Linked DNA regions of Homo sapiens: region 1 is linked to region 2. Evidence: fine-mapped expression QTL. A gene starts in region 2. The other region holds a variant in brackets. All regions are shown on one strand. Distances are from middle to middle.

Region 1 (5,363 bases), 36 kb before region 2:
CCCGGTGCACACCCATGCGGTTCCCACCCCCTCGCCCGGTGCATACCCATGCGGTCCCCAGGACACCAGCCATTCGCGGATGGTGCGCAGCTGCTGGACTCGGGGACAACAGCATCTTGGGGCTTGGCACTCCTTGGGCATTTGAGATGCCCATCCTCTTCTACTGCCCGCTGTGTCTCCTGCTTTCTTTTTTTCTTTTTCTTTTTCCTTGGAGACTCTTCCATGGCCTCTGGATCACCATCACCCATGGGAGAGCAGCTGCTTGGAAGTGAGAGGCAGCAGTCAGCTCTGAGCAAATTGGAAGGGGAGCAGGAGCGCACAGACACCCGCCTGCAACATGGAGAAGGTGCCACCCCAGCTGTGACCCAGTGCACGCAGGTCCCTGCAACATTCTTCCCCCCACACGCATTAGCGGACGCTCCACACGCAGCCACGGAGACAGTAGAGGGAAAACCAGTCGCGTTTCCCATCCTAACTGAGCCAAGCCTGTTGACGCCAATGTGCAGGCTACTGTGACCTGATGAAACGGCAGATCCTGGCCTGGCCCGGGACACCTGATCCAGCATCCTTGAACGGCCCTGCACATACAATGATGGACACTACTGTCCACACCACTGTCGCTTCAAGGATCAATCCACTGGTATTTATCAGAGGAGATATTTTTTCTTTTTTCTTTTTTTTTAGACAGGGTTTAGCTGTCACCCAGGCTGTAGTGCAGTGACGCGATCTCAGCTCACTGCAACCTCCACCTCCTGGGCTCAAACCATCCTCCCACCTCAGCCTCCTGAGTAGCTGGGACTATAGGTGCATGCCACCATGCCCAACCAATTTTTGTTTTTGGTAGAGAAAGGGCTTTTCCATATTGCCTAGGCTGGTCTCAAACTCCTGGGTTGAAGTGATCCACCCGCCTCAGCCTCCCAAAGTGCTAGGATTACAGGTGTGAGCCACCACACCCAGCCAGAGGAGACATCTGATCACAAATCCACATTTTAGAAAACCACGCAAGCAGACTACGTTTCCAGACCATACCTACTTGGGGGTAGATTCTGTGGTTTTGCTTTGTTTCTCGTCAGAGGTAGACAGATGCCACTTTGCTCCTGCCCTTACCTGTGCCGAAGTGGGTCCTGGTGCAGGCCGCCTTCTTCACCAAGACCTTCTGCTCCTTTCCTCCTCCGCTTCCTGCTGCTCGCGTGGTGGCCGTCCGTAACACATCCCACCTGCTGGCCATTCACCTGTGGCTGTGTGCCATCTTCCTGCCGTCTGACAGCGGGCAGCTGTGCCTGGCCCTCCCTCCTGTACATGGGGCTCCCAGGCTGTCTCTGTGTCTGCCCCTCCTGCAGGGCGCTGGCAGCTGTGTCCTCCGGGCGCTTCTTCTTCTTCCTCTTCCTCTTCCCGTGGGGAGCCGCAGTGGCCTCCCTGATGTGCTGTGGGAGGCGCGTCTCTGAGCCCAGCCTCTGCGGCTCTCCCACAAAGGTCTTTTTCCTCTTCTCAGAGGGGCTCTGGGGGGGCTCACTGGCCTCTGGCAACTGGTGTGGAAGAGACACAAGGTCCTCGTTGACCTGAGGCAGCGCCGTCGAGATGGAGGAGCAGCTCCGTGGTTCTGACGTCCCTGGGGGCTTGGGGGTACTGGACAGCAATGTGGGGTGGGGGCTGAAGGGGGGTTGCAGGCGGCTGGATGATTGGGGAGCAGGTGACACAGCCCTGTGGGGACAGCCAGGAAACAGGGAGAGGATGTTCTGAAAGACCCAGCAGAGCTGTTCCTTCTGTCTACCCTCACTCCCCTCCCTTTCACCTAAAAATCTGAAAAGGCTTTTACCCTGTAGTTTTCAGATACACATTAAGTTACATGTATGTTTGAAAGAAAGCTAACAATTAATTCAACATCTATTTAAATGCAAAGTTGGCCAGGTACAGTGGCTCATGCCTATAATTCCAGCACTTTGGGAAGCCAAGGTGGCTGGATCACCTGAGGTCAGAAGTTTGAGACCAGCCTAGCCAACATGGTGAAACCCCATCTCTACTAAAAATACAAAATTAGCCGGGCGTGGTGGCACACGCCTGTAATCTCAGCTAGTCAGGAGACTGAGGCAGGAGAATCGCTTGAACCTGGGAGGTGGAGGTTGCAGTGAGCCGAATCGCGCCACTGCACTCCAGCCTGGGCGACAAAGCAAGACTCCGTCTCAAAAAAAAAAAAAACCAAAAAAACAAAAACAAAAA[CA/C]AAAAAAAAAAAACAAAGTTACCTAGGTGGTGGGTTGATAGGTGCAGCAAACCACCATGGCACCTCTGTAACAAACCTTTACATCCTGCACATGTACCCTGGAACTTAAAATAACTGATCCCTGAGATTTAAAAAAAAAAAAAAAAAAAAAAAAAAAAGCAAGCCAACACGTGATTTTAAAAGTCAAAAAAAAAATTTTTTTTTTTTTAAAAGGCAAAGTTAATAAGAATTGTTCCATGCCTTAGTTTCTTGTCACCAAGCAATTCAAGTATTTTTGCGAGCTCTAATGTAAAAACATCTTTAATACAAATGTGTTAAGGGAGGAAACCTTCACGAAACAATAAATGGTAAGGAAAAAAAAGATCCCGTGAGGATTTATTTTCCAACCTCCGAAAGTCTCAGGGTGTTCCCGGGCAGGAAATGAGCCTCATAAGGAAAGCAAGTGTTGAGCTGGCCTAATGACACCTCCACATTACCGTCATTAGGACGCTGAAACCGGGACACAGATGCGTAGAGCAGAATCATGAGCAAGGCGTGTCCGGGACAGGATCTAGTGCCGAACCCAGTGAGGCTCCCTCTTGCCAGCTATGTGTCTCTAGGAAAATTAACTTCCCACTCTGAACCACCATGTTCTCATTTGTCAATGAGCTGGGACCACAAAGCCCACCTCCCAGGGTTCCTGCAGAAAACAGGACCCCCGTCATCATCTAAACAAACTATAAGGGCCATGCCAGCTGCACGATGTTTGATTACTCTAAGTGTCTTCTGGAATCTTTTCCAAAAAAGCTTATAAGGCAAGAAACGAAAAACACCCAAACACTTAAGGCCCTCCCACGTACACAAATCTTATGCTAGGTATAGGGCAGAGGTGTGCTTGTGTGTGTATATGTGAGAGGAGAGTAAGGCAGAGGCTGTGGGCGACGCACAGTCATACCTCGCCCTCATGTAGCACTGGAGATTCTAGAACTAGAACCCAGCGCCGAGGCCACCAGTACAGTCCCCGCAGGCCGCCTCATGACTCACCCCATCTTTCACTGCTTCCGTCCCCACTCCCAGCGGCTTCCAGACAGCCATTTACCAGTTACTCTCAACTTCCTGCCACTCGAGGCACCTAAGAGACGCAGGCAGCCCCTGCGGACCAGGGCCCACATGCACAGGGAAGGGGCTGCATCTCTGGCAGGTGTCTGCAGAGGAACCCGAGAGCCCTGAGACAGTTCTTAACCTGCATGACGCTAGCAGGCAAGACGTCCCACAAAAAACGCTCGGGACTCCGAGCTCACTCAAGCCTCTCGCCAAGGCCTCACTTCGCCTTTCTCTTCGACTGGGAAGTACTGTCATGGGGCTGGTAGGGATACAGGACAGGTCAGTCCCCAGCACACCACATCACCACAAGGATGTCGCAGACAGACCACCAACAAAGACAGAACTAAGACATCAGGACTGCAGAGGCCGAACTGCCTTCACCACCCAAAGCTCCTTTACCACAGGGGAACACAGAAGAGGGGGATCTTGGTCAGTGACGCCCCCCTGTACCTCCTGGCTGCCCCAATGCTTTGTCTGTCCTGTGAGGTTGGCGATTCGTCCAACTCCTCACCAGCCAAGCACACGCAACCACAGGGAGAACCAGTTGGCACCCAGAAGATCCCGGCCCAAAGCTTACCTGGCTCTATGGACGGGCCAAGTGGAGGCAACGACGGGGTGAGAGGTTTTCATGGGGTGGGTGAGGTCGGAGGATGGTGAGGGGGGAGGTGGACGGAGGTCATTGCCGGTCGCCCTCCACAGGGTGCTGGCCTGCAGTTATCGACATAAATAAAAACTTGGTGGTCTAAAAAAGGTTTCCGTGAGTGAAGAGGGAAAACAAAAGTAACAAAAAATGAAAATAAAAACAAAAGAGCCCAGAAAAAAAGATGAGGAGACAGAAGAAGACAAAAAGGGGAGGTGAGGGGCAGGGGAATGGTAGAAGAAGAACCAGAAAAGTATTTTTGGTTAGAAACAAAAAAAAGGAAGAAAATTTAAACAAAAATCTCAGCACAACAATCACATCCACGTGCCGTGGCTGCCCAAGCTTCCTGCTGCAGAGGTGCCGGGCACCCCACTGGGGCTCTGCGCTTCCTGCCCGCCCCACCCCTGCTAGGGACACGTGCTGGTGGGGCCCACCCTCCCTCGGGTTCAGTCAGGATCTTCCACCTACTGTGAAAACAGGGAACTGCTACCTTGCCCAAACCTCCATGAGTCACATGAGCATCACCAGATCAGGGCTCTCTCAACACCCCATACTGCCTTCACCCCAAGATAGCCGTTCTTTAATTGCAAATGGCTGGGAACGACTAAAAGACACTTTGTTCCTCTAACATGAGGGAGGCCAAAGCCCCCGGACAATGTTCTCACTCCCTTCAAACCACAACCAAGCAACTCTTGGAGCTCTCCTGATACACAGCAGCGGCGAGACCCCCACACACCCACCTTCTTGGCAGAAAGGGCCAGTTTTTTGGCTGGTGGAGGAGACATGGTGCTTGCAGGCTCAGTGGTGGTGTTGCTCAGGACAGGGGACTTCAGCTTCACCGTCTTAGAATCTGCTCCACTTGGCGGCGTTTTGGAGTGGCCAGCGGTGGAACAGTTCGTTTCCTGAGAATCGCAGAGATGGGCCGCTCCACTCCTGGGGGTCTGGGGGGCCTTGGTGGAGTCGCTGCTGGCCGAGTGCTCTGGGCTGGAGCTGCTGGAGCCCCTCCTGTCGAGGCCAGCGCTCTCGTCGTTCCCCTTCAGCCCATGCCCGTTGGCAGTGGCTGTAGCCAGGAGCTTAGGTGAGGTAGAGAGGACAACATCCCTGCTGTCCCAGGAGCCCTGCCTTTGGCTCCCAGATCTGCTGCTATTCGAGTTGCTGGTCCCAGGCAGCCCCTGAGCAGTTCTGGGGGAAAAGTGCTGTGGAGGAGCTGGCTTCTTCACCTTCTTTCCAGGGTCGTCTAGGATGGTTGGCATGTGTGTGGGTGTCTGGGAGAGTTTGGGGGAAGGGGACCCCGAGGGCAGCTTTGGAGGAATGCAGCCGTTCTGGGACTTCAGGCCCAGGGTGGAGCCATTCCTGGATATGGGCACACCAATCTCTTCAGTGGTGTGCGGCTTCTTCATCGTCCCAGAGTCTTGTCGCTAA
Region 2 (5,363 bases):
GACCCCATCTTTAAAACAAAAAAAATCGTGGCTCACGCCTGTAATCCCAGCACTTGGGAGGCCGAGACGGGTGGATCAGGAGGTCAGGAATTCAAGACCAGCCTGGCGAAGATGTTTCTCTACTAAAAATACAAAAAAACTAGCCAGGCATGGTGGCAGGCGCCTGTAATCCCAGCTACGCAGGAGGCTGAGGCAGAGAATTGCTTGAACACGGGAGGCAGAGGTTGGAGTGAGCCGAGATCGCGCCACTGCACTCCAGCCTGGGCAACAGAGCAAGACTTGGTCTCAAAAAAAAAAAAAAACAAAAAACAAAAAACTTCTGTAAAGAAATTTCAGAAGCTTATTTAAAAAAAAGCATTATAAGTTGTCTGATTTGAGAAAATAAAAGAGCCTTTTCTCATGAGAATTATCAAAGACTTCTCACCAACTGAACAATCACTGCTGCGTCACATGCAGACAATTCAACGGAATCAAAAAATACACAGAAGCCTCGCAGACTCACCTGGGATGTGCAGACTTGGGCCTGCTGTCCTACTGCGGCATGGAACCAGGATCTTAACGGAGGGCTGAGTTTGGTTGGGCAGGTGCTACGCGGAGCTCCTGAATGTAAGCGCTCCTGGACTGTGGCCTGTTCAAACACCGAAGCCGCAGAGCGGGCGTCAGAGCCTGTGGGAGGGACAGGGAGACCATCAGTGGAGGCGACTCTTCCTGTGCCTTCTCTTCAGCTACTTCCCAGGGATGCGGCGCGCACCGGGAACCCTCTACCACGAAAAAGCCGTCCAAGGAGCATCCACGCGTGCACTCAGGATGAGGCGGGTGGACCGTACTACCTCATCACCAGTTGTTGTAATGCACACGATATGAACACCTTAACCTTGACCCCAGACAAGCCCAGAGAAGGAAAACCTCCCCAACACCTGCCAGTCAGCTCCAGTCTAATCTTATTTCCAAAGAGTAAGAGGTAATAAATCCCCAAGTTTTGGATTTAATGAACCAGTAAAACTTCAATAACAACAACAACAAACCTCAGGGAGTAATAGGAGTTGCCAAAATTTTGCTTTGCTAAGTGTGGATTTTCTCTTTCATTACCATCTACGATCACTATGATTACATAAAATTAAGGTTCGTAAAAACAGTTTACAGTGAAAACATTCAAACACACAGATGGAGAACCGCACAGGGAGCACATGAGCCCCCCTTATTCAGCCTCAGTAACTACATCTGACCCATCCTGAGTCACTTCCCATCCCCAGGTAATTCTACAGCAAATCTCAGACCTATGACTTCATCCATAAATAAAAGCATACCAACTCCCGAAAAATGTGTAAGGAAATGATCTCAGAATAAAAGCCATCTACAAAGTGAAGACATCCAGTCGTATTAAAAACTCCCCACAATATCACTGCTTTCGGTTAGGACTCACATCTACCCTGGAAGGTGAGAACTCTGTCATGCACAACCAACGCTTGAGAACCACTTAGGGAGGGGATAAACGAACCTTGGGAGATGTAACCCAGTTTCACTCGAGATAAGTAACTTTGAACTTAACCCACTCCTTAATGTAGATGCAGAGATTTTGAACACAATTTTTCAAGTGGGACAGGTCAATCTCTACTTCACCAATTCCACCTAAAACATTAAGCAATAACCTAAACAACGCTCGCTCGCTCTCTGACGTGTAGGAGCCCGAGACAAGTGTTCCTGTAATCACTAGCAATCCCTCCGACGCACACACCATCCACACTCTACCCAACTCAGGAAGGATGCTCTCTCTTGTCCAAGGACAGCACAGGCCTCATCCACATTTCCACCTGCGCGAACCCCAGCCAGCACCATTTAGGCTCATTCCCGCTCCCTCCTCCTTCTAAAGTCACTTTTCCAGGATGAACTGCAACGGACGCTCGCAGGGTCAACCACGTGCTGGGGAGAGGAGCCCACGGAAGCAGCGGCCTCCCGGGGCCCAGCGCCGCGCTCCAGGGGCCTCCCGGGCGACTCCGCAGCGCCTGCCCCGAGCCCGGCCGCGGACACAGCGACCCGAGCACCTCTCCCCGAGCATGGCTCCGTGGCGAGCGTTACGTAAACGGGGGCGCGCGGAGTCTCCCCTCTCGTGTGTCTGGGTTTGGCGGCCGCCACTCCAGCCCCAGGCCCAGGACCCCCACGCCACCCGCCAGAAGCAGCAGCATCGGAACCGCACCCCGCCCCGGGCTCCATGGCCTCCTCCGCAACCACGAGGAAGGTGCCCGCCCCGGGGCCGCACCCGCCCCGCTGAGCTCTGCGGCCGCACGCGACGCCCTCGCCCTGATTCCGACTTCAACCTCTCCGAAGTTGACCTGAATCCTGCACAGACAGCGGGCCCCGGCGACCCCCATCACCGGCCCGGAGCCCGGGGGACGGCGGAGACCGGCGAGGACAGCCCGGCCCCGGACCCTCCTCGGGAATACCCGGGCTCTGGAGAAGCGAGCTCGCGAGCGGGCGGAGCATCCCGGGTCCTCCTCGGGGACGGCCGAAGCCCTGCGCGGACCCGCGCCCACGTTCTCCCTGAGCGTCCCGGCTGCGCCCGCCAGCCCTTCCCGCGCCCCAGGCCTCGCGGAACCCCCCGCCCCGGTCTCGTCCCCAGGCCTGCGCACCGCCCCGACCCGACCCCAGCCTACCCCGGCCTCTCCGCGGGCGCGCCACAAGCCTACGCAGCCCTGGCGACTCCTTCGGCCCGCGGCCCAGCACGCGCACCATCCGGGCCTCCGGCGCCTCACACACGTGTCACCGCGACGCTTAAAGGCGCCGCACCCAGCGTTCGCGCTGCGCTAACTCCGAAAGGGTTGGGAGGCTTTAAGAGGCGGGGCTAGATTCCGCTAACTCCCTGTCCCCGCCCACCGCCGCTTCCGTGTCGCCTACGTCACCTCCCCATCACGGGACCCCGCCAGCCTACGTGATGACGCAAGTGCGCAGAGCCACAGGCGCTCCCGCCCCTGTGCCGCGGCAGGGTGACGTCTCCGCAGCGCACTAGAGGTGCCGCTACTTCCGGGTCGGCCGAGCACACCTGGCGGCGTGGCGGACGCCTGAAGTGTGACAGTGGCGCGCGCCCCCGCCCCAGAACGGGGACTCGAGGGACTTTGCCCACCCCTGCAACAGCCCTCCCGCGCTGTCTCCCGGGCAGGGAGAAGGCTGGGCTCCCCCACCTGCCCCTGGCCGTCAGGTGGCTGTGGAGAAGCGGAGGCGCGGGCGCTCGGCCTTAACGTCCCGGGCTCTGGGGCCATCCGTGACTCCCACACGCGGAGCACCTGCAGTTTGGGGAGGGAGGGATCTGGGAGCGATCGGCCAAAGCCTGGGGCTGCCGAGGAAATGGCTCTTCGGAATTAGGGATCTGAGAGTGTGAGATTTGACCTTTGTAGGCTGGTGGCGGCTGTGCAATCTCTAGCTCCACCCACTCCCTCCAAAAGCTTTGTCCTCTGACAGCTCTGCGAAGGTTTTAGCTGAGTATTTGTGAGCACGTATTTCTTTTGCAGTATTTTTAAAAATCCTCTTGATCTGAGGCAACTTCGCTGGCTTCCTCCCCATTCCCTTGGGCAGGTTGAGAGTGTTGGTTCCTGGCCTGACCTCAGAAACTCAGAGAAGCACAGGATGGGCATAAACTACTTTATCCAAAAGGCAGAACTTTGCAAACACAGTCGTATCTGCTGTGTCTTTTTTGATGTAAGTAGGAATGATGAGTAGGGTGAAGTCACAGGTAAACAACCCAAAACGAATTTCCATGCCCTCCCCACGGATCCTAAAGCAGGGACTGGAGATGGGGAGAGAGGCTAGATGTACTTGGAACAAAATTCACCTTGTATTTATTACCTGGGCGCTGGTGTTTTTTGAAAAAAGCAAACAAGATAACCATATTAGTCTGATGCTGAGACTATGCCCTATCTGTAAGAATCCTTGGGCTGGGCGCGGTGGCTCACCCTTGTAATCCCAACACTTGGAGGCCAAGGTGGGCGGATCACCTGAGGTCAGGAGTTCGAGACCAGCATGGCCAACATGGTGAAACCCCGTCTCTACTAAACATACAAAAATTAGCTGGGTGTGGTGGTGGGCGCCTGTAATCCCAGCTACTCAGGAGGCTGAGGCACGAGAATCCCTTGAACCTAGGAGGCGGAGGTTGCAGCGAGCTGAGATGTCGCCACTGCACTCCAGCCTGGGCGACAGAGCGAGACTCCGTCTCAAAAGAAAAGAAAAGAAAAGAAAAAAAGGCAGGGCACAGTGGCTCACGCCTGTAATCCTAGCACTTTGGGAGGCCGAGGCAGGCAGATCGCTTGAGGTCAGGAATTCCAGACCAGCCTGGCCAACATGGTGAAAACCTGTCTCTACTAAAAATACAAAAATTAGCTGGGTATGGTGGCGCACGCCTGTAATCCGAGCTACTAGGGAGGCTGAGACAGGAGAATCGCTTGTACCTGGGAGGTGGAGGTTGCAATGAGCTGAGATCGTGCCATTGCACTCCAGCAGCCTGGACAACAGAGCAATACTTGGTCTAAAAAAAAAAAAAAGAAAGAAATGCAACGTAGGTCTCTCACGAAATTAGCCCAAATCTTCAGCCATCTTCTACAGGCTGTGAAACCAGGAGAGGAATTGAGTCCATCTTACCTTGACCTCCCAGGCAGGGAGCGGACCAGGTAATTTTTGGGTGACAATACAACTATTCTGTTAATGCACCTTTTTCTTGAGGTAAGTTCTAATGTGATCCGTTTTGGTTACAGCTTTCTATAACAGAATATTTTATTCTTTCATCTTTAATGTTTCTCTAGTTTTCTCTTTTAGGATTTAGAGATCATTCAGTCTCATCTCAAATATTTCAATTTCCATGTGGTTCTTTCATAAACATTTATCCACAGTGAGCCTGCCCTGCATTCTTTGGGTGTGGCTGACAGTTGCAGCCACCCTCAGGTCTGCGGGGGTGGGTGTGTTGCCCCTGAACTGCAATAGCAGAATTTCTCCCTAGCCTGGCAGGGGAGTGCAATCGTGGACTTGCTTTTCCACCCGCTGGGGTTGCATTTCATAGGTGCCGAGTGCCTGGGGGGCCCAGGCCTTTTCACATGAGGGTTTTCAGCCCAGATGTCCCTCCTGCTCTAGGGGAACCCTTCACATCAGTCAGGTGACTTGCTGGACTGGTAGAGCCTCTGCCATCAGCCTCTGATGCAAAACCTTTTCTCAGGTGTCTGTGCGGTCCATGGAGACCCGAGTTCCCAGGTTTGGGAGGGATGCCACTTTCCTTAGGAAGAACAGCAATGTATGTCGTCCTTCCCATCCATGCAGATGGGACAGGGCTCTCAGGAAATCTGCCATTAGCATCGCCCTAGAAGATGCACAGGCAGAGGCAGCTG

What was found.
Region 1: its variant is fine-mapped to the expression of USP36 in monocytes (Fairfax 2014, PIP 0.95).

What each region holds. Positions count from the first base shown.
Region 1 is chr17:78,802,278-78,807,640 of GRCh38, forward strand. USP36 (ubiquitin specific peptidase 36) reads right to left here. Exons shown (of 21, transcript NM_001385174.1): 14 at 4,682-5,359; 15 at 3,879-4,009; 16 at 1,108-1,701; 17 at 47-258. Among named protein-coding and RNA genes, the nearest start is that of CYTH1, 23 kb to the left of the region's middle. The variant CA/C (reference allele first, on the strand shown) is at 2,218.
Region 2 is chr17:78,838,085-78,843,447 of GRCh38, forward strand. USP36 (ubiquitin specific peptidase 36) reads right to left here and starts at 2,730. Exons shown (of 21, transcript NM_001385174.1): 1 at 2,652-2,730; 2 at 503-666. LOC124904067 (a long non-coding RNA gene) reads left to right here and starts at 3,030. Exons shown (of 2, transcript XR_007065923.1): 1 at 3,030-5,363. RefSeq lists enhancers at 184-698, 699-1,213, 2,808-2,997 and silencers at 2,138-2,657, 3,118-3,217.